3 linked regions of the Homo sapiens genome follow. The protein of the gene in region 3 interacts with the protein of the main gene of each other region in a pairwise test. Each region holds a gene or a part of one and is shown on either strand. Other genes may lie near its edges.

Region 1 (7,052 bases), on a different chromosome or scaffold from region 3:
CACAGTTCTGATTTTTATCTTCAAGATTACGTTCGCCTGTTCCTGAATTTCACATAAATGGCTTTTTTTGCACCACAAATGAGTCCAAGATTCATTCATATTGTTGTGTTTAATGATCATTTGTTTTTTAAATTTGTACTCCATTGTAAGAACAATATAAGTAATTTTCTGTTGGTGAACATTTAAAATGTTCTAGTTTGGAGCTATTATGAATAAAGCTATAGTGAACATTCACGTATAAGTTTTTTGTGTACACATATATTTCATTTCTATTGGGTAAATTCCTAGGGAGTGGAATTACTAGGTTTTAGGGTAGGAATGTGTTTAACATTATGAAACTTCCCCTCATACAGCTTTTTTTTTTTTTTTTGAGACACTTTCTCTCTGTCACCCAGGCTGGAGTGCAGTGGTGCAATCATGGTTCCCTGAGCCTCGATCTCCCAGACTCAAGTGATCCTCCCACCTTAGCCTCCCTAGTAGCTGGGACCACAGGCATGCACCACCATGCCTGACTAATTTTTTTTTATTTTTGTAGAAATGGGATCTCCTTATATTGCCCAGGCTGGTCTCAAACTCCTGTGCTCAAGCCATTCTCCTGCCTTGGCCTCCCAAAGTGCTGGGATTTCAGGCAGGATCCACCATGCCTGGCTGAGCCCCTACTATATATATATATATATATATACACACACACACACACACACACACACATATATATACACACACATATATACGTATATATACGTATATATGTGTGTGTATATATATGTGTGTATATATGTGTGTGTATATATATGTGTGTGTGTGTGTGTGTGTGTGTGTATATATATATTATTTTTTTTTTTTTTTGAGACAGAGTCTCACTCTGTTGCCCGGCTGGAGTGCAGTGGCGCGATCTCGTCTCACTGCAAGCTCCGCCTCCCGAGTTCACGTCATTCTCCTGCTTCAGCCTCCCAAGTAGCTGGGACTACAGGCGCCCGCCACCTCGCCTGGCTAATTTTTTGTAGTTTTAGTAGAGACAGGGTTTCACCGGGTTAGCCAGGATGGTCTCAATCTCCTGACCTCATGATCCGCCTGCCTCAGCCTCCCAAAGTGCTGGTATTACAAGCGTGAGCCACTGCTCCCAGCCGAGCCCTAGATATTTTTTTAAAAAATATGGATTCATGGTCTTCAGTTCCAAGAAAGAATTCTGCGTCAGTCTGAGGTTCCTAGGCATGTATAATATGTAGTTTTTAAAAACTCCCCAGAACCAATGGTCTAAATTATATTGGTGGCGGTGGAAAGGAAGTTATTTTGGTTTGGTTTTCTTTTCCACCACAAAAGCATATAAATGTAAATAGTTTTTTTCCCTGCCTAGCTACAACCTTTCTCTGAACATTTTCCCCAACTCTAGCCATTAGCCCCAGTATTGAAATAGTCTCTCTTTTTAGTTTCTCTGGTGAAATGCAAAGCTCTGGTTTTTCTGCTCTTGCTTAAAGTGATGTAAAAGCTCAGGGAGCTCCTTGAAGCAGCCCTTAGAATTGCTAAGACGAGTAAACAAAAACAGATCTCTAGGGTGGAAAAGAACTTTGGACAGAATAGCAGTTGAGGGTGTGTGGCCCTGTGTACACCGGTAGGATTTTGTCTGGTGCTTTTACCTTTTTTCCCTTACTATTCTACCTAGCAGCAAGAAATAGTCAACTGTGTTCTGGCTGCTGCCAATGTCTACATTAAACAGCTGCCTCTGAGCATCCAACCTAGTGCCAGCCTAAATGGCTGCATATCACTAGAGAAGAAGCCTCTAGTTTCTACGCAGAGAAACTGAGACACAGGAATGGGAAGGGAGTCACTTAATGGATTAGGGACTGGTTGAGCTGGGACCAGAACCCAGGTGGCCTGGCTCCCAGCCCAGCTGACCACACTGCTACCCACACAGCCTGGGCTGACCAAAGACAAGCAGCCCATTGAGCAACTGCACAAACAACAATGAATGATGGATGGTCAGAGCAAGAAATAGGCACAAAGCAACTGTGACCCCATCACTTCCTGGCCCCTAAATTTCCAGGCAAGCCTATAAAGTGTGGTCACTTAAATGACTTTGACCAGCAACTTGGCCCAGCTTTCAAATCTGGAGACCTTCTATGGTCACTGCCAAAAGAAAAAGTCTTATATTGAGGGTAGAGTGCCTTTGAGCTCCACGCCTGGTTCTATTAAGTCTGTGGCAGTGGCGTTAAGATTAGAAAGACATATTTATATGGGTATAACCTGGTTCTGGACAGCTGTGGTGAAACAAGGCAACTTTCAGATTTTGAGGCTCCTCTTCTACAGATCTGTGCTCCCATCTCAGATTTAACTAGCAAAGGGTAGGTGTGGTCAGTGATTGTTGTCACAATCATTCCAGAATGTTTGTGTAGAGTTACTAGAATTTCAGTCTTTTCATTCTAAAGTATTTTCATCCCTCTCACCTTTCTAGAACGACACCCTTTTCAGCTCCTTTCCAACGGCTGTAGCCAACTGATTCTACCCCAGAGTCCCAAGCGTCCACCCCCGTACCCTTCCAGTTCAGTTCAGTTAGAGTTCAGTTAGAGTCAATTTAGGTGACCAAATCTCATCCTGCTCTCCTCCTTAAATTTACCACTAAACGGTAGCTAAAATTTGTGGTCCCTTATACGCTTGAAGCCCACGCCAAATGACTTTACTTGTCAACCTCTATTGTATGTCTTGGATATGCCCCCATGCAAGGCACTCTGACTTGTTTGGCCTTAGCATGTGTGGACAGCCTTGGGCCCAGCCCTAAATTTTCGATTGTAAACCCAGGTGTATCCCTAAGAGATATAGCTGTCTAGGAAGTTTCCCTGTTTCAGGTGTCAGTTTCCTATTCTGAGCTAGACAATTCTAAAATGCCTATGCCCCACGCCTCCCCTTTAGAAACTGAGGAAGAAGTGAGGGGAAAGAAAAGTTGACTAGAGTATTTGTTTTTACATAGGCATAATGGGCACAATTAGGCAATACATTATTTTGAATATGCAGACCAGGTGCTATAATGTTAGGAATCTGAATTAAAATTTCAAATGTCTTTTGTTAGAGTATAGCCGGGGTTGGCATCGTTTTGTGTTTGTCATAAAGAGGTATTTACTAAATGGCCTTTCTTTCTTGAAACAGTCCACACAGGCCTAATACTTATTCATTCATTCAACAAATATGGAAGGTCTACTATGTGACAAGGATGGCTTATTATGTTCTCATAGCCATAGCTCATTGTCACTCAGGTAGGACACATACAAGTTCTGCTACATATAATATAGTTTTATGTATTTTACTAAATTGTAAAACCTTTGATGTCTGGGATTATGTCTTGTTAATTTTTGTATCCCCCTGTATCACTGAGAGCAGTGATACACATCACAGGGATACAATACATATTTGAATTATGCCATAATGTTTTAAAAGACATAACAAACGCACTAGAAGACATAACAAACGCACTATGTAAGTTTTTTTTACTGTTAGCAGTCTAAAGCAGATGTATCAACAGGGTATCACTGTTATGCAAGTAAATAAATATTAAGTGTTTACAGAGAAGGATATGTTCACTTCAAGAGTGAAGGAACAAGAGAAATATATAATTGGGTGGAGACTGGTGTGGAAGAAGCTAATCTTCCTCCGGTCACTCCAGAATGATTGTGTAGAGTTACTAGAATGTCAGTCTTTTCATTCTGAAGTATTTTCATCTCTCTCACCTTTCTACAACTACTCCACCCCTTTCAGCTCCTTCCCAACGGCTGTAGCCAACTGATTCTACCCCAGAGTCCTAAGAGTCCACCCTGTACTCCTCCAACTCCTGTTCAAGAATGCTCCAGACCAGGAGCTTTAGGGACTCGGGTCGGGAAAACACGGGGTCACGCGCGGGGCAAGCGCCAAACTGGCCGCAGCCTGGGGAGCGGCGCTAAAGGCGGGGCTGCGACGGGGCGGAGCGGGAGGAGGCCCGGGGGCGGCCTGGGTGTCACCACCAACCCGCTCCGGCCGGAAACTGGCGCCTGTTTCCGGCCGGACAGCAGAAAGCCACCGATCCTGAACCAGCCGCCGGAGCCGGAGTGGCGACCGGGTGCGGAGTGGGCAAAAAGCCACTGGGGGAGGCCAGTCCCGATCAGTCCTTTCTGGCTCCAGCTCCAGATCCCGTGCGGAGCAACAGCTGCGGTCGCAGTCTCCACCACCGCCTCCACCTCCATCGCCGTCGGGGGAGGGGCCGGCCGGACCCCGGGGTCACTGCCGAGGAATGAAGAGAGGCGGCCGGGCCCCGCGCTCCGCCCCGGCCTAGGGCCTTGCCCCGGGAGCCCGCGAGGGTAACGGAGCCCCCCGTCCTGACACCGTCCCCCGTCTGCTCCCGCCCCTCCCGGCTTCTCAGACTCGCAAACTCTGCTCCTCAGATCGCCACTGTCCCCTTTCTCCTTTCTGAATCTGTTTCACCCGAAGCCATCTCCCCTCGGCACTCCTTTCTCGCCCTGACTGCTCCTTGCTTCGTCCCGATCTTTCCTCCTCCCTTTCACCTGCGTCCTGCGTTCCTACCCCGCGCTCTCCAGCTCCCGGCCTCCCTTCCTGAGCTGTGCTGGCCAGTTTGGACGGTCCCCCCTTGTCAGCTAGACTTTCGGGAGGGATGGTGGAGTTTTAAGGTGATTAAGATGCAGTGTATTATCCCCACAGTAGGATAAAGTTCATTTAAAATCTCAATATAATACTAAAATGAAAAGCAAATAAGCTTATTCTTCCTATTGATAGCCAAACTAAGGTGCATACAGTAATGGAGGAAAGGCGAGAAAAAGGTGTGTGTGTGTGTTTGTGTGTGTGTGTGAGAGAGGGAGAGAGACGGAGGTTGACGGATTCTAGGGCAGTCTTAAGAACTTTAGAAAAAAGAAAAGTTGCCATGAGCCGATGGAAACTTTAGAAGCTGATGATGAGTAAGCCGGGGGCTGCGTGATCTCACTCTTCTCATAATTACTAGGTTAACGGTGTGGCTCCGGTCGGGATGGAATGGGATTTGTTTACTGGGCCGGCGTATTTTTAGCTTGTCGGCTCACAAGGACCAGCGCTCAGAGTCTCTTTCTCCCCGCTCGTGGTAGTCTTTCTTGTCTAACCTAGGTGGCTTCTCTGGGCACAATAAAGATGTAAAAATTTGAAATTAGAAACTGACTGGTGGAATTTTATGGAAGAAGTTCCCCACAAACTTTTCAGGCAGCTTTTCACGAATGCAAAGCCTAGAATTAGCAGGACGTTGACTTTTATTTTCCTTATCTTTTTATACGTACTACGTAACGCTTTGCTTAGAAATTCACATGCTGCTAATTTTTCAGTCTTTGGCCTCTAGTACTGTATATTTAGGAGATTTTTGAGGAGGCTGGATCCCTTTGTCTTTCAGAATCTATTTCAAAGGTGGAAAAGGACAGAGTAGAGAAAGAGGTGGCGGTAAGACTGGCTCCAAAGAGTTGCTAACCCCTAAATATTTAAAAAAGTTTCTATGCTATGTAACTTCTGAAAACATGTAGAAAATTTTCTTCCTACTAAATGAGATTGCATTCCTGATGGGGAGAAGACTTCAGGGACGGAAGCTGGGTGGCTAGGGAGAATCAGAGGTAGTTAAATATTTGCTGTGTATAACTTACAAATACATTATGCGCAAACAATGAAGAATTAATTATACGCTTTGTCTTCATTGTTTTTCAAGTAGTTCTTTTAACGTTCAGTAACCAACCTGCTGTGCTAGTCTATTGATATTTTGAAGGCTGAACAAAACTGTAAAATAAATGAACTTGATGTTGCTCCTCTGCAGGCTGAATACCCCCGACCGTTCTAATTTCCACTATTGACCCAGCTTGCCTCAGAGCACCTCCCTGACAAAGTGGCCAGTTACTATGTACTTAGAGATTGCAAATCAATGCAAATATTAGCTCATACTAGGAATAATTAAGAAGGTAAATATGCTGAAAACATATATTCCAAAACCAAAATAGATTTTTTCGATTTTACCCTCATTTTTGATTATCACCACCTTTCTGCCAATAATTATCCGTTAACATGAATAATTTAGAATTGAACAGATATCTGCTTTGGACATTACACTTTCAAGATAGAAGGAAAGATGGAAGGAAGATAGTGCCAAACTAATTTTTTATTGTCATTGCCTTATTTGACTTATTCCTTGCTTTTAATACTGAAGACTCCCTCGGAAAAAAATGTAAAACTTTGCCAAAGCAAGAGCTGGCTATCTACTGACTTGTATAAGGCCCGGTGACTGGTAATGAATGCTAATCATTAGGTGGCCTTTAGTGGCCTTATGTTGCCAACAACTTGGAAAATTTCCCAAAGCTTTATTTGTTTAATCTTTCTTTTGAGACCCCTATTTAAAAAACGACTTAATTTGGAGACGAAAATCTAATTTTTAAAAACCACATACACCTTTCCCAGAATCTGTTGATGATCAATAATTGTTTTGATCTGTGTGAGTTGATTGGTGCCAATATTAGTGATGATATCTGGGTAAATTCTATTTATATCTGCATCTAGCAACTCCCTAAGTTGAACTGCATACTTTATTCCAGGGCATGGGGATCAAAGGGGTTGAAGAAGCCTAGGAATGAGTGGAGAGCTGCCTGGTAGTCCACCACTATTCCTAGTTCTCAGGAGGCTTTATTTGCAATTTTGAGATTCAATGTATGTAACCAAAATAAGTATTCTGATTGTTATGAGGGCACTAAGTGCCACTTGTCAAAGTTTTGGAGCTCCTGAGTATCTTAAGCATGCTAAAAGACACTGGCCATTATAGTGTGGGTGTATGTGTGTATGAGTAGCACTCTCCTTACCCTAAACACTCATCCCACCAAAGGGAAAATCCTTAAACAGCGCTTTGAAATGTGACCTCAGCAGTATCTTTCCTATGGGAACTTAGGAGCTGTGGAATAGCAGACTGTGGAATCTTTTTTGTAGCCTCTGATAAATTCAGGTAATTAAAAATTTGTGTAACTGGAAGATAGATACAGGGCAGTTTTTCTCATGAATGCCTGAATTCAGTTGACTTTTTAATA
Region 2 (7,280 bases), on a different chromosome or scaffold from region 3:
CGAGGTGGTGTGTGCCTGTAGTCCCAGCTACTCAGGAGGCTGAGGCAGGAGAATTGCTTGAACCCAGGAGGCGGAGGTTGCAGTAAGCCGAGATTGTGCCACTGCACTCCAGCCTGGCAACAGAGTGAGACTCCGTCTAATAAAAAAAAAACAAAAAAACAAAAAACACAAAACAAGTAGACAACCACTCAGGCTATTTTTTCACTGTCCAGGTGTTTTGAGGTGTTTTTTCCTTTTCCTTTTCTCAAAATGATTCAAGTAAATACAATACAGGAAATGCTGACACTAAGATCTTGGCAAATTACTTGTGTGTATCTGTTATTTCATATGTAAAATGCAGATAACAGTAGTACTTATAGGGTTGTCATGAGGATTAAAAGAATTACTACATACAAAGCATTTGGTAGAGTGCTGACACACAGTAATCACTAGATAGGTGCAATTATTTTCATTGTAATTTTTTTTTTTAAACTTTTTTTCTAGGTTCAGGGGGACATATGCAGGTTCATTATACAGGTAAATTGCATGTTGCAGTGGTTCAGTGTACAAATTATTTTGTCACCCAGGTGATAAGCATAGTACCCAAGAGGTAGTTTTCTGATCCTCACCTTCCTCCCTCTCTCCACCCTCAAGTAGGCCTTGGTGTCTGTGGTTCCCTTCTTTGTCTCCATGTGTACTCAATGTTTAGCTCCCACTTATAAGTCAGAATAGGTGATATTTGGTTTTCTGTTCCCGTGTTAGTTTGCTTTAGAATAATGGCCTCCAGCTCCATCCACGTTGCTGCAAAGGACATGATCTCGTTTTTTTATGGCTGCATAGTATTCCATGGTGTATATGTACCATGTTTTCTTTATCCAGTCAACCACTGATGGTCATTTATGCTGATTCCATGTCTTTGCTATTGTGAATAGTGCTGTGATGAACATACTTGTGCATGTGTCTTTATGGTAGAACAACTTATATTCCTTTGATAGAACAACTTATAAGAACAACTTAGAATCCAATAATGGGATTGCTGGGTCAAATGGTAATTCTGTTTTGAGTTCTTTGAGAAATCACCAAACTGCTTTTCATAAATTAAATCATAATGTATAATTAATGTGTTACAGGGAATTTGGTGAAGCAAAAATTTACACAAGTATAAGCAGCAAATTCTGGGAGTATTTTTGGGCAGATGGTAGAAGGGCATGTTAGGGAACCAATACAGTACTATTTATAAAAGTCTTTGCTTACAACATATTAATTTCCCAATGAAGGAACGGACCATTCTAAGATTTTAGAATGTAGTGGATGAATTTGATGTGTGGCTTTTATAGTAGACAGCCACTTACTTCTCGAGTTCCTTACAGACACTTGAAGGTTCAGATAATTGCCACGTTTTGCCTTCCCTATTATATGATAAGCAGAAGAGCCCCGGCCCGGCGCAGTGGTCACGCCTGTAATCCCAGCACTTTGGGAGGCCGAGGTGGGTGGATCATTTGAGGTCAGGAGTTTGAGAACAGCCTGGCCAACATAGTGAAACCCTGTCTCTACTAAAAATGCAAAAATATTAGCTGGGCATGGTGGTGCATGCCTGTAATCCCAGCTACTCTGGAGGGTGAGGCAGGAGAATCACCTGAACCTGGGAGGCAGAGGTCCCAGTGAGCCGAGATCGCACCACTACACTCCAGCCTGGGCGACAGAGCGAGACACCGTCTCAAAAACAAACAAACAAACAAACAAACAAGAAACAGAAGAGCCCCAGAACAATAAATGTTTTTCCTCACATAATAAAATACACGAATACATTAAAACTGCTTTTTCTTGTTTGCTTTTTCTAGTTTTTGTTTTACCTGTCCTCTGAGGCAGTTGGGCGAGTAACCGTCTGGAGGGGGTTGTGCAATTCATTAGAGTAAAAGGTGTTGGACAGTATGTCAGCTCCTTCAAGCTCCCTGCAACAGTAGGGCCTGCCGTGAATGACTTCCATGCTTCTTGGCTAAAAAGGCACAACCTGGAAAAGAAAAGGAGGGCACATTTGGCTTGTCGAGTCAAGGCAGGCAGAAAACACATTTTACACTGCTAAATTGTTCAACCTGACGCTGCACAGACGTCACAGGCTTCCCTCTGCACTGAAAGCCGTCAAATCAGTAATAAATAGAGACCTAAATAAGTTCTATGGAAATAAATTTCAACTGAAACAAATCCACAAAGTGGACGGTGCCTCCAAGTAGTCACCAGAATGATCATCCAGTAGGTTCGTACCAGTCCGCTACTTTGTGGCCATCAACTGACATTCAATTCCTGCCTTAAATTTAACTATAACTATTCAAGAAAACTCACTTGACTTTTAGCCTGTGGTCTTTCCGAAAATTAGAGACTCTTCATTCAACAAAATAAGCGCTGTCCTAAAGCCTTCGGGGATTCTGGACAAGAATCCCTTTGCAGATGGTGGAGTCAGTAGTGCAGCACGAACGGGACCCTAAAGGGGATTCCCGGTTTCCAACTGCGTCGGGGAGAATCCCACCTCTCTCTCGGACTTGGGGGAAGGCCAGGAGCCGGCGTAGCTGGGACCAAGGGTGCCAGGGGTCGAGGCCGAGCCTCACGGGCTGTCACTGCCCTGCAAGCGGTGCCTCGGGGGTCTGGACATACCTGGGACATGAGCCTGGGGGCGCTGCGGGACCGCGCCTCCCCTCCCCTCCCCGCAGCTGGCGGCCTTCGCGGGCCGAGGAATTTTGAGGTCGTCCGCACCTACGGCCCGGTGGAGCTGGCAGGCAGGGGCGGGGGCGGGAGAAGGACGGCGGGCAGGCCGGGGTGGGGTGGGGCTGGGGGCGCTTGTGACGGTGGCCGTGACCGCGGCATTAGGTGATGCGTCCTTGAGGGGCTGGGGGCTTCCGGGCGGCGAGCGGGGCGCAGTAGGAGGCTCTTAGAGACCTCGGAGGAAACCAGCCCAGCGCTACGGGACTGGCAAGAATGCGAAGAGGAACCGAGAGTGAACGGAGTGCGAGGCGCCGGGTCGGAGGCGAGAGGGGCTCTTCCGCCTTGCGACCCCTGGCCCCGCCTCCCGGTCCCTTGCCCCGCCCCTCTCGGCTCACCGCCCTGCCTCCAGTCGGACCCCGCCTTGCCCCACCCGCGCCCCGCCCCCAGGCGCCCTCTAGCGGCGGCGGCGATGGCGATACCAGTTTCTTTTTCCAGGGCTACCAGGTCTGGAGCTGTCTCAGGGCCGGCCAGGGAGCTCTCTCATGTGGACTGGGCGGAGGAGGAAGAGCTCCGGTCCAGTGGAGTCCCTGGTGAGGTCGGAGCATCCGACCTGTCCTCCCTCCCCAGGTCACCTCGCAAAAATTGGGGACAGTGTGGCCAGATAGAGGGTGGAGTCTGCAGGATTCTGAAACTGCAGCCCCTGGCATGGCGCCCTAACAGAGTCTCTGCTCCTTCCCTGGTGGGTGCGGACATGGCAAAGTCCTTTACTTGCCTCGTCCCCAGGGCCTAGCCCCACCTTGATTACCTCAGTTTTCCCCAAAAGATACAAATGTGAGCCATGAATCTGCACCTACAGGGTCATGAGTTCCTGTGATGGCTGACAATAAGGGATGTCACCCCCCCCTCGCCACCTGCCACCCCATCAAGGAATGGGATGTGAGGAGGTTAGGTTGTGTGTATATGTGTGATATGGTTAGGCTTTGTGTCCCCACTCAAATCTCATCTTGAATTGTAATACCCATAATCCCCGCTTGTCAAAGGAGAGACCAGGTGGAAGTAATTGGATCATGGGGGCAGTTTCCCCCATGCTGTTCTCGTAATAGCGAGTGAATTCTCACGAGATCTGATGGTTTTATAAGAGGCTCTTCTCCCTTCTCCCAGCACTTTTCCTTCCTGCCCCCTTGTGGAGAAGGTAACTGCTTCTCCGTGGCCTTCTGCCATGATTGTAAGTTTCCTGAGGCCTCCGCAGCCATGTGAGATTGTGAGTCAACTAAACCTCCTTCGTTTATAAATTACCCAGTCTTGGGCAGTTCTTTACAGCATTGTGAGAAAAGACTAATACAGTGTGGGAGGCTAGAAATGAGCCTGCAGGAACCAGAAGGTGAGGGTGAGAATGACCACCTCTGAGAAGAAGGGCGTTGAAACTGTGTGCCAAAGAGTTAAAGAAAACAGTCATAGAAATTCTTGAGTTTACAGGATGGCAGATAAAAGAAACAAATTGCTGAAATGCTGAAATGCCTGGGCTTGTAGGTTAATAAAACTGGCTGAAATCCACTGGAACATATAAGGCCAACTAGAGTCTGCACAGATCCAGCTTGCTGACCTTACAGCTGAATTTCTACTGCCATGTTTCATACTAACTCCTCACTGAATTTGCACGTGGAACCCTTAGGTAGCATGAAGAAATAAGAGCACATGCGCAAGGACTTTCCAGACTTCCTCTTTCCTTCCACCAAGCACCTGCTAATCCCAGAATCCACACTCAAAACCATTTCTAATAAAATAATTGTCCTAAAGCCAGCACAGGGAGACAGATTTGAGCTGGACTTCCTATTTCTTTGTTGGTTGACATGCAATAAAAGTTTTTATTTTATCAAAAACCCAGTGTTATAGTATTGACTTCTAGTGCCTCGGGCAGCGAGCCTCCTTTGCTTGGTAACAGTATGATGGTGCCTTTGCTATTCTCTGCCTACTTTACAACTTTCTACTAACCAACCAGTGGGCATTCATTTTGTGCTGTGCCTTCTATGTGAGTGTTACCTGGAGTGGGGGAAGAAAGGTGTATTGAAGTAGGCACAGTGGTAATTTTGTAGTCTTGGTTTATTTCTTAGTTCCTGCACCTCTGCCGACCTTCCAGTAGTTACCACCCACTAAGCCTAGAGGAATAGATCCTGCTGGAGACAGAGTTGTGTATTAGGTGAAACTGGCTTTTATCTTTGACATCTTTATTTCCCCTCCAATTTCTGGTAGTTCATTGTAAGCTTTTGCCCCTTTTCTGCTCCTCTGTGTTCAGGATCTCCCATTAAATTCCTTGTCTCCCCAGCCCATTTCATGTCCCCAGTCTTCCAGTACTTTCTATACTTCACCTTTTTCTCATCCTCAACCTTAGTCCTATTTTCCCATGGCTTGATTCTTCCTGGGAGGAATAACTGAGCATGATAGATTTAATCAGAGGCATCTGATGAAGATGCATCACTAGCCATGTATGTACATGGATGGTAGTGACACCGGAGAAAGTGTGTCAACTCCAGGTTGAATGATCAGGATATGCCATGTGATAGCCTCCAGGTTCTAGGGGATTTGAAATTTTATTTTAGGTCAGATGAGTGTAAAAGGCAGATAAATGTAATTATTTTTATCTTTATCGTTTTTCAAATAAAATGTACCGGCAAGAAAAATTCATTGTCAGATCGTTGTAAAACAATTGTTTTCTTTGAAAATGCTTCTCCATCTGAAATTTTCAGGGATATCAGGATTGGGTCTATTTGTTTGACCAACACTCGTTACTCTTAGCTTTTGTGATTTAACTCACTCCATCTCAGCCAGGATGTGATCTCAACAACACAAAGTAGCCTCCTACCCAGGGATGCTCAAGTGACGAATTTCTTAGGTATAACATGGCCAGGGGGCCAGTAGCCTCAGATTGCCTTCTTTTGACTTCTCACATGTTGATCTTGTCACCACCTCATTTTGCTAGTAATCCTTCAAGCAGGGAAGATGAAATTTGGCAATGAAAATAATATATGCTTAGAATACTGTGGGTTGATGACAATTCCAAATCACAGTTAGACCTTTCACCTTCAGGTAAAGAATAAGTAGGAGGTAGATAATAACATAAAGCATGAATTACAGTCTATAACCTTTCTTTTAAGTCTGTTATAGAGACCAGTAAAATGAATGAAGAGACCAGGAACATGATTTTTTTTTTCTTTTTGAAACAGAGTCTCTGTTGCCCAGGCTGGAGTACAATGGTGTGATTTTGGCTCACTGCAACCTCCGCCTCCCCGGTTCAAACAATTCTCCTGCCTCAGCCTCCCAAGTAGTTGGGATTACGAGTGCTCGCCACCACGCCTGGCTAATTTTTTGTATTTTTAGTAGAGACGGGGTTTTGCCATATTGGCTAGGCTGGTCTCAGACTCCTGACCTTAGGTGATCCGTCTGCTTTGGCCTCCCAAAGTGCTGGGATTACAGGCGTGAGTCATGCACCCGGCCCAGTGAATATTTTTTACATGAAAAAACAATTTGGAGTCTGGTGCCTTGCTTAGAAGATGTGTTGGAAAGTGTCTCAGTAACGTTAAAATATGCATCTTTAAAAATTGAAAAACTTAAAGCCTTGTTGATTTCAGTATATGTATCTTCTTAGTAGGATGACAATTAAAAGTATGTATATTCTGCTGACTTTAAACTACAAATGAGTTAAATTACACTTTAATACTTTTTTGGTACTAAATAATTTAACCTAAGTTCAGTACTTTAAATTCTTCTCAAAACATATTTTCTTTCTTTCATAGTTGTTTATTATAAAAACGCAATCAGCTTTTTTGTGGGTGTCATTTCAATTTTTTTCTTGAAGAGGGTTATTTTTAAAGAGCATTGTAATCTCAACAGTCTTTATGGTTGTAGTCATGTCAACTATGATCAATTGAATAAGCCTAGAAATGTAATGTGCAGCACAAGGATTATAATATTCATAATATTGTATTGCATACTAAAATTTTTCTAAGAATGTAGATTTTAGATGTTCTCCTCCTCCAATAAAAAATTTACTGTGTGAAAAACAATAATAATTTTTTTTTTGCCTTGAGTAGCTAAGGAACTAGGTGGTCATTTAGTAGTGAACACTGAAGTGACGTTGATGCACACATTTATAAAATGTGCTATTTAGTAAACAGTTACCTAGAATGCATCAGGGGTTGTCCTAGCACCTACAATCTATGGGGACATGGAGCCATGGAGAGTCATAATCAGTGAGGTAAGTGCTCGACTGGGGCCAGCACTCTTGCTGTAGGGGTCCATGGTCACCTAACCAAGACTCTTGTGCTTCTGATATCATTCCCTTGGAAATGTCTGAAAAGCAATGTAAGGTTCTTCTATTTAGAAACATGATCATCAGGACCCTTTAGCGAGGTGACCCGGCCATGTGCCCTTGGTTACATGCAGTTGTTTGTCCTTGTGGCCTCCCTGGCATCTTTCCTTTTATCTTTCTTTGCATCTTCCTACATGGATATTCTAACATTTTGTCCCATGAATTTGAGTTCCTTCTGGGTAGCCTTTTTCTCTCTAATCTTAAACCTCTGCTCAGAAGACTCAGTGGTCAGTCTCTA
Region 3 (7,023 bases):
CAGGCTTTTCTTTTTTTCATATAGTGTCTTGGTTTTACATAATTGTAATAATATTTTATTATAATAAGCATTGTCCATACTATTTTTTATTTTATTATATTTTATTATATTTTATTTTATTTTGAGACCGAGTCTGGCTCTGTCGCCCAGGCTGGAGTGCAGTGGTGCCATCTTGCTTCACTGCAAGCTCCGCCTCCCGGGTTCACGCCATTCTCCTGCCTCAGCCTCTCCAGTAGCTGGACTACAGGCGCCAGACACCATGCCGGGCTAATTTTTTGCATTTTTAGTAGAGGCGGGTTTCACCGTGTTAGCCAGGATGGTCCCGATCTGACCTCGTGATCCGCCCACCTCAGCCTCCCAAAGCTAGGATTACAGGCATGAGCCACTGTGCCCGCCATCCATACTATTATATGGCCTTAATTTTTAATGTCTGAGTCATATTCCACTGAGTGAACATAGTGTCACTAGTTAATTTTTCTTCCACTAATGCACTTTTTTTTTTTTTTTTTTTTCTGAGATGGAGCCTTGCTCTGTCACCCAGGCTGGAGTGCACTGGTGCAATCCTGGCTCACTGCAATCTCCACCCCCACAGGTTCTAGCGATTCTCCTGCCTCATCCTCTTGAGTAGCTGGGATTACAGGCACGCTAATTTTTGTATTTTTAGTAGAGATGGGGTTTCATCATGTGAGTCAGGCTGGTCTCGAACTCCCGACCTCAGGTGATCCACCTGCCTCAGCCTCCCAAAAAGCTGGGATTACAGGCATGAGCCACTGTGCCCGGCCCACTAATGCACTTGTTTTGGTGACATAAAGCGTAAGTTTTCAGATTATTTCCTTGGTCTTAGAAATGCTGAATTGAAGAGCATGAACGTTTCCTAGGTTCTTGTTTTTGTCTTTGTTTTTGTTTTTTGAGACGGAGTCTGGCTCTGTCGCCCAGGCTGGAGTGCAGTGCCATGATCAGAGCTCACTGCAACCTCCGCCTCCCAAGTTCAAGCGATTTTCCTGCCTCAACCTCCCGGGTAGCTGGGATTACAGGTGCCCACTACCATGCCTGGCTAAACTTTGTGTTTTCAGTAAACATGGGGTTTCACCATGTTGGTCAGGTTCGTCTCAGACTCCTGACCTCAGGCGATCCACCTGCCTCGGCCTCCCAAAGTGCTGGGATTATAGGCATGAGCCCCCACGCCTAGCCTCAGGTTCTTGATACATATTTTTAGGATGTAATTTAAATTTTTTTTTTTTTTTTGAGACAGGGTCTCACTCTGTCGCCCATGCTGGAGTGGAGTGGCACAACCAGTATTTTTTGTAGAGACAGGGTTTCATCATGTTGCCTGGGCTAGTCTCAAACTCCTGACCTCAAGTGATCCACTTGCCTCGGCCCGCTAAAGTGCTAGTATTAGAGGTGTGAGCCATTGTGCCTAGCCTGTAATTTAAAAATGTAACTTATTTTGGGATTCTTTTTCTCCTTTAGGTATACTCTGGATAATAACGTTCTAACCCTGGAACAGAGAAAATTTTATGAAGAAAATGGGTTTCTAGTAATCAAAAATCTTGTACCTGATGCCGATATTCAACGCTTTCGGTACAGTAACACTATTTGTTATTTTACAATAGTATGTATTGTGTGCATGTAATGAGAATACAAGGTGGATTCGCTCCTGGCTTTACAGATGTTTTTTAATGATTTGGTTTGTTGGGAAGTGTTTAGAAGCATGGGCTCTGGTGCCAGACTGGCTTTTTATTTTTTATAGAGAAAGGTTCTCACTCTGTTGTGTAGGCTGAGTGCAGTGGTGCGATCATAGCTTACTGCGGCCTCAAGTTCCTGGGCTCAAGCAATCCTCTTGCCTCAGCCTCCTGAGTAGCTGGGACCACAGTTGTGCACCACCATACCCAGCTAATTTTTTATTTCTTTGTTTTTAGAGACAGGGAGTCTCACTATGTTGCCCAGGCTGGTCTTGAACTCCTGGCCTCACCCTCCTGAGTTGCTGGGATTACAGTCGGGAGCCACCATGCCTGGGCTTCAGTCTCAGCTCCACCACTTAATATCATGTGTCCTGGGGCAATTTACTTCACATCCCATGCCTCTGTTTCCTCATCTGTAAAATGGGGATAATAATAGCACTTATGTCCTAGTGTTGTTATTAGGACTAAATACGGTGAAATATATGGAAACCACTTTGAAGAGAGCTGGGCACATGGTAAGTGTTACAGAAATGTTTGCTGTTATTATTATTACAATGTAACCAAATTATAAAAAGACTTCCCTACTGGTATGCTAAACTAGGGAATAATTTAATTCTGGGAATGGATTCTAGCCAGACAGTTTCTCCTCCCTTTCATTGGAATTATTCTACCTCAAGCTGGAGGCCAACTTAGTGCAGAGAAACCACCCCTCAAGTCTGCAACCCTTTCCACAGAGGAGGGCAGGGCAGGTGCTTGGAGCCAGCGGTAACGACATCATTTGCAAATTAAATTTTCTAGGAATGAGTTTGAAAAAATCTGCAGAAAGGAGGTGAAACCATTAGGATTAACAGTAATGAGAGATGTGACCATTTCGAAATCCGAATATGCTCCAAGTGAGAAGATGATCACGAAGGTCCAGGATTTCCAGGAAGATAAGGAGCTCTTCAGATACTGCACTCTCCCCGAGGTCAGAGACCACCCTTGCTTTGCGTCGGCTTAATTGCCAGTGTGTATGTCTGCCTGTAAAACCCGCTGATTTGGCCGGGCGCAGTGGCTCACTCCTGTAATCCGAGCACTGTGGGAGGCTGAGGCAGGTGGATCGCTTGATCCCAGGAACCACTGCTCTTAGAGCTGGATATGGAAAGGAGTTGAATTGAGTAAAATCAGTGGGTTTTATTTTGTTTTCTTTTCTGGAGACAGAGTCTCGCTCTGTTGCCCACGCTGGAGTGCAGTGGTGCGATCTCGGCTCACTGCAACCTCTTCCTCCCAGGTTCAAGTGATTATCCTGCCCCAGCCTCCCAAGTAGCTAGGTTTACAGGTGCCTGCCACCACACCTGGCTAATTTTTGTATTTTTAGTAGAGAAAGGGTTTCACCATATTGCTCAGGCTGGTCTCGAACTTCTGACCTCGTGATCCACCCACCTCGGCCTCCCAAAGTGCTGGGATTACAGGCATGAGTCACTGCGCCTGGCCAGTGTCCTACATTTCTGAAGAATGGGACCAGTATCTGGTGGTCTATGCCATGATTTTAGGAGGTATAAATTATTTTAATAGATATTTATTTTTAAATGTATTGGAAAAAAACTCAACAGTCTACCAAACTCATGATTTCAAAAATGTTGTTAATTAGGACAAGATTAAATAAAAAGGCCAGGCGAAGTGGCACTTTGGAAGGCTGAAACAGGAGAATCACTTGAGGCCAGGTGTTCAAGACCAGTCTGGCAACATAGTGAGACCATTGTCTATATTGGAAAAAAAGAAAAAAACAAAGATTGAATAAGAGAAGTGAGCTAACTGCCGGGCGCGGTGGCTCATGCCTGTAATCCCAGCACTTTGGGAGGCCGAGGTGGGCAGATCACGAGGTCAGAAGTTTGAGACCAGCCTGAGACACATGGTGAAACCCAGTCTCTACTAAAAATACAAAAATTAGCTGGGCATGGTGGCGGGCGCCTGTAATCCCAACTACTCAGTAGGCTGAGGCAGGAGAATCGCTTAAACCCGGGAGGCAGAGGTTGCAGTGAGCCGAGATCATGTCATTGCACCTAGCCTGGGCAACAGAGCGAGACTCCATCTCAAAAAAAACAAAAACAAAAACAAAAAACAAAAAACAAGTGAGCTAACTAAGGGTAGGGAAATCATTGGCTAAATAACAGTACAAGTTATGTCAGAAGTTGTGAGGATGGCTCTTGAATGGCTGGCATTTAGAAAATCCCAGCCTAGATGAATACAAAAAAATACCAGGCTTTATAAAAAGCAAGTGTGTGCCTGACTGCTAGGCTTTTAATAACCTTTCCAGGGTTTCATACTCAAATTGCCAATATTCCTTATACACAAGAGATCAAAAAGTGAGGAAGCAGTAGAAGGTGGCTTATTTTTTGGAGTCTTTTTTTTGCAGAATCAAAATTTGAATATCATGGGTTGTTTTATTTTCTTCTTCTTCTTCTTTTTTTTTTTTTTTTTTGAGACAGAGTCTCACTCTTGTTGCCCAGGCTGGACTGCAGTGGTATGATCTCAGCTCACTGCAACCTCTGCCTCCTGGGTTCAAGTGATTCTCCTGCCTCAGCTTCCCAAGTAGCTGGGATTACCGACGTGTGCCACCATGCCCGGCGAATTTTTGTATTTTTAGTAGAGATATGGTTTTGCCATGTTGGCCAAGCTGGTTTTGAACTCCTGACCTCAAGTGATCCGCCCGCCTCGGCCACCCAAAGTGCTAGGATTACAGGTGTGCGCTAACGCACCCGACCTCAGTGTTGAGCCCTTTCTGCTTTTTCCCTCTCCGTTGCTGGGTTCTGTACACAAGGTAGCGGCAGCCCAGCTCCCAGGCCCCACGACTAAACCAGCTCTCCCTGTCACGGTTCCCCATGTTAGCCTTTTCTTCATAATGCAGTGTCCCTCGGCCACTCTGACCCATGTCATTACTGGGTTAACATTTTTCATCTAACTCCTGGGACCTGCTTTGCTTGTTCACTCTTGCTTCCCCATTTCCCGTCACCTCCTGGTTCCCAGATCTCAGTAATGAGTTGTCAAGTGCCAAGCGTCCCCGATTGTCAAATGTCCTCCAAGCCACCATTCTGCTTTCTTCCGGGCTATTCATGACAGCTGTGAATTGTATGGGACTCTTCGTATGCAGAGGCTCCAATGAGGAAGAGGAAACTGCCCTCCCACTGAGCAACCTTCTGTTGCTTGGGTTGACAAGAAAGCTATATTAATATCTCATCGGAACTCCTATGTTTCTTGTAGAGAAAAAATGGTTTCATTCCCAGCTAGCTCAGAAAAAGCCCATTTCATTCCGTGTTATAGATTTAGAATGATTTCCAATGGCTGGGTTTTTCATGCTTTGTTTGCAATGTTGTGAAATACCGCTTGGTTCTTAAACTATTGCCTTCTTGGTTCTTGTGTGGATAGCTACTGTACTTTGTACCAGTTGTCAATACTTCTGATTTCCCACAAGGTTTGTTTTTGTTTTTTTTTTGCTTTCTTAGATTCTGAAATATGTGGAGTGCTTCACTGGACCTAATATTATGGCCATGCACACAATGTTGATAAACAAACCTCCAGATTCTGGTAATTGTAAGGGAGAAGAAAAAAAAATGGTTTCATTAAAATGTGTAAGGTTGGCTGGGTGCAGTAACTCATGCCTGTAATCCCAGCATTTTAGGAGACCAAGGGAGGAAGATCTCTGAGGCCAGGAGTTTGAGAGTGGCCTGGGCAACATAGTGAGGCTCTGTCTCTAAAAATAAAATTTAAAAATATCCAGGCATGGTGGTATGCACTTGTAGTCCCTGCTATTGGAAGGCTGAGGTGGGAGGATCACTTGAGCCCAGGAGTTGAAGGCTGCAGTGAACCTATAATGGCATGCTCTCCAGCCTGCGTGACACAGTGAGACCCTATCTCTACATAATAAATAAAACAAAACAAAACAAAATAATAAAATAGCTGATGTCTAACTGTAATCATGTGTACAACTGTCAAACTTTGGATAAGGAAGTCTTAAAATAACTTACACTATAACAACAGTGAAATGTGGTAATTATTTCAGATATTAACTGTAGGACTGTTGCTGAATTTTCAGATGACTGGCTCCCCAAAAATGCAGTTTAACCGACATAACTGTTCATATATCAAAGGTTCCTGCCATTCGACGTCTCTAAGCTTGATCAGCTCTTTTTAGCTGTGATAGTGTGGATTCTTGCATTCCTGATAGGAAGACATTATTATTACTAACACAATTAAAATTGTTACTATGAGTCACAAACTATAGTGGTCTTTTTTTTTTTTTTTTTTTTTTTTGAGATGGAGTTTTGCTCTTGTTGCCCAGGCTGGAGTGCGATAGCGCGATCTTGGCTCACTGCAACCCCCACCTCCCAGGTTCAAACAATTCCTGATTCTCCTGCCTCAGTCTCCCAAGTAACTGGGATTACAGGCATGTGCCACCAAGCCTGGCTAATTTTTGTACTTTTAGTAGAGACAGGGTTTCGCCATGTTGGTCAGGCTGGTCTCGAACTCCTGACTTCAGATGATCCACCTGCCTTGGCCTCCCAAAGTGCTGGGATTACAGGTGTGAGCCACCGCGCCCAGCCTATAGTTGTCTTTAAAATGTCTTGTGCTTGCTAAAATGTAGAATCTAAGACCTCATTGGCAGACAGACTGATTGAGAAATATAACCCAGGTTTCTGTATTTTAATAACCTTCCTCAAGCTGGGCGTGGATGTGCACCTGTGGTCCCAACTACTCAGGAGGCTGCGGGGGGAGGATCGCTGGAGCCCAGGAGTTCAAGTCCAGAGATTGTAGTGCAGATCACTTGGACTACACTGGGAAATTCCTCTGTGCCTGCAGTAAAAATCAGCCATGAGAGAGTCCCCCTATCCTTTCTGCCTTTTCTTCCTTCTGATCTGCAGGAGGGGTTTATGTGATAGAAGGCAGCTTAGCATTACCAGGTCTCTCCCTCCTTGAGGAGAGCAGGTGTTCGGGAGCCACACTCAGGGAGCAAACCAGGGGAAAATGTCAGTGTGGTCATGGGCACTCCGACTGGACATGGAATGACTATAGTTGTGGGGGGTGAGGACCTCTTAGATAACTTTTTTTATTTTTATTTTTTTTGAAATGGAGTCTTGCTCTGTTGCCCAGGCTGGAGTGCAGTGGCTCAATCTCGGCTTACTGCAACCTCTGCCTCTGGGGTTTGAGTGATTCTCCTGCCTCATCCTCCTGAATAGCTGGGATTACAGGTGCCCACCACCACACCCAGCTAATTTTTTTTTTTTTTTTTTTTTTTTTTTTTTGGTATTTTTAGTAGAGACAGGGTTTCACCATGTTGGTCAGGCTGGTCTCGAACTCCTGACCT

What was found. Proteins that work in one complex are often made in the same cells at the same time.
Region 1: the proteins of PHYH (region 3) and OTUD7B interact in binary tests that used the Homo sapiens proteins (3 or more experiments, as listed by UniProt).
Region 2: the proteins of PHYH (region 3) and SPMIP4 interact in binary tests that used the Homo sapiens proteins (3 or more experiments, as listed by UniProt).

Annotation. Positions count from the first base shown.
Region 1 is NC_000001.11:150,007,715-150,014,766, reverse strand, and holds the start of OTUD7B (OTU domain-containing protein 7B), read left to right. Parts: upstream 1-4,040; 5' UTR 4,041-4,319; exon of another isoform or gene 4,320-7,052. UniProt on the Homo sapiens protein: Negative regulator of the non-canonical NF-kappa-B pathway that acts by mediating deubiquitination of TRAF3, an inhibitor of the NF-kappa-B pathway, thereby acting as a negative regulator of B-cell responses.
Region 2 is NC_000007.14:25,177,343-25,184,622, forward strand, and holds the start of SPMIP4 (sperm-associated microtubule inner protein 4), read right to left. Parts: upstream 3,013-7,280; 5' UTR 2,320-3,012; intron 1,991-2,319; 5' UTR 1,967-1,990; coding exon 1,833-1,966; intron 290-1,832; exon of another isoform or gene 1-289. UniProt on the Homo sapiens protein: Microtubule inner protein (MIP) part of the dynein-decorated doublet microtubules (DMTs) in flagellum axoneme. May serve to reinforce and thus stabilize the microtubule structure in the sperm flagella.
Region 3 is NC_000010.11:13,290,054-13,297,076, reverse strand, and holds part of PHYH (phytanoyl-CoA dioxygenase, peroxisomal isoform a precursor), read left to right. Parts: intron 1-1,470; coding exon 1,471-1,581; intron 1,582-2,480; coding exon 2,481-2,649; intron 2,650-5,164; coding exon 5,165-5,246; coding exon of another isoform or gene 5,247-5,252; intron 5,253-7,023. UniProt on the Homo sapiens protein: Catalyzes the 2-hydroxylation of not only racemic phytanoyl-CoA and the isomers of 3-methylhexadecanoyl-CoA, but also a variety of other mono-branched 3-methylacyl-CoA esters (with a chain length of at least seven carbon atoms) and straight-chain acyl-CoA esters (with a chain length longer than four carbon atoms).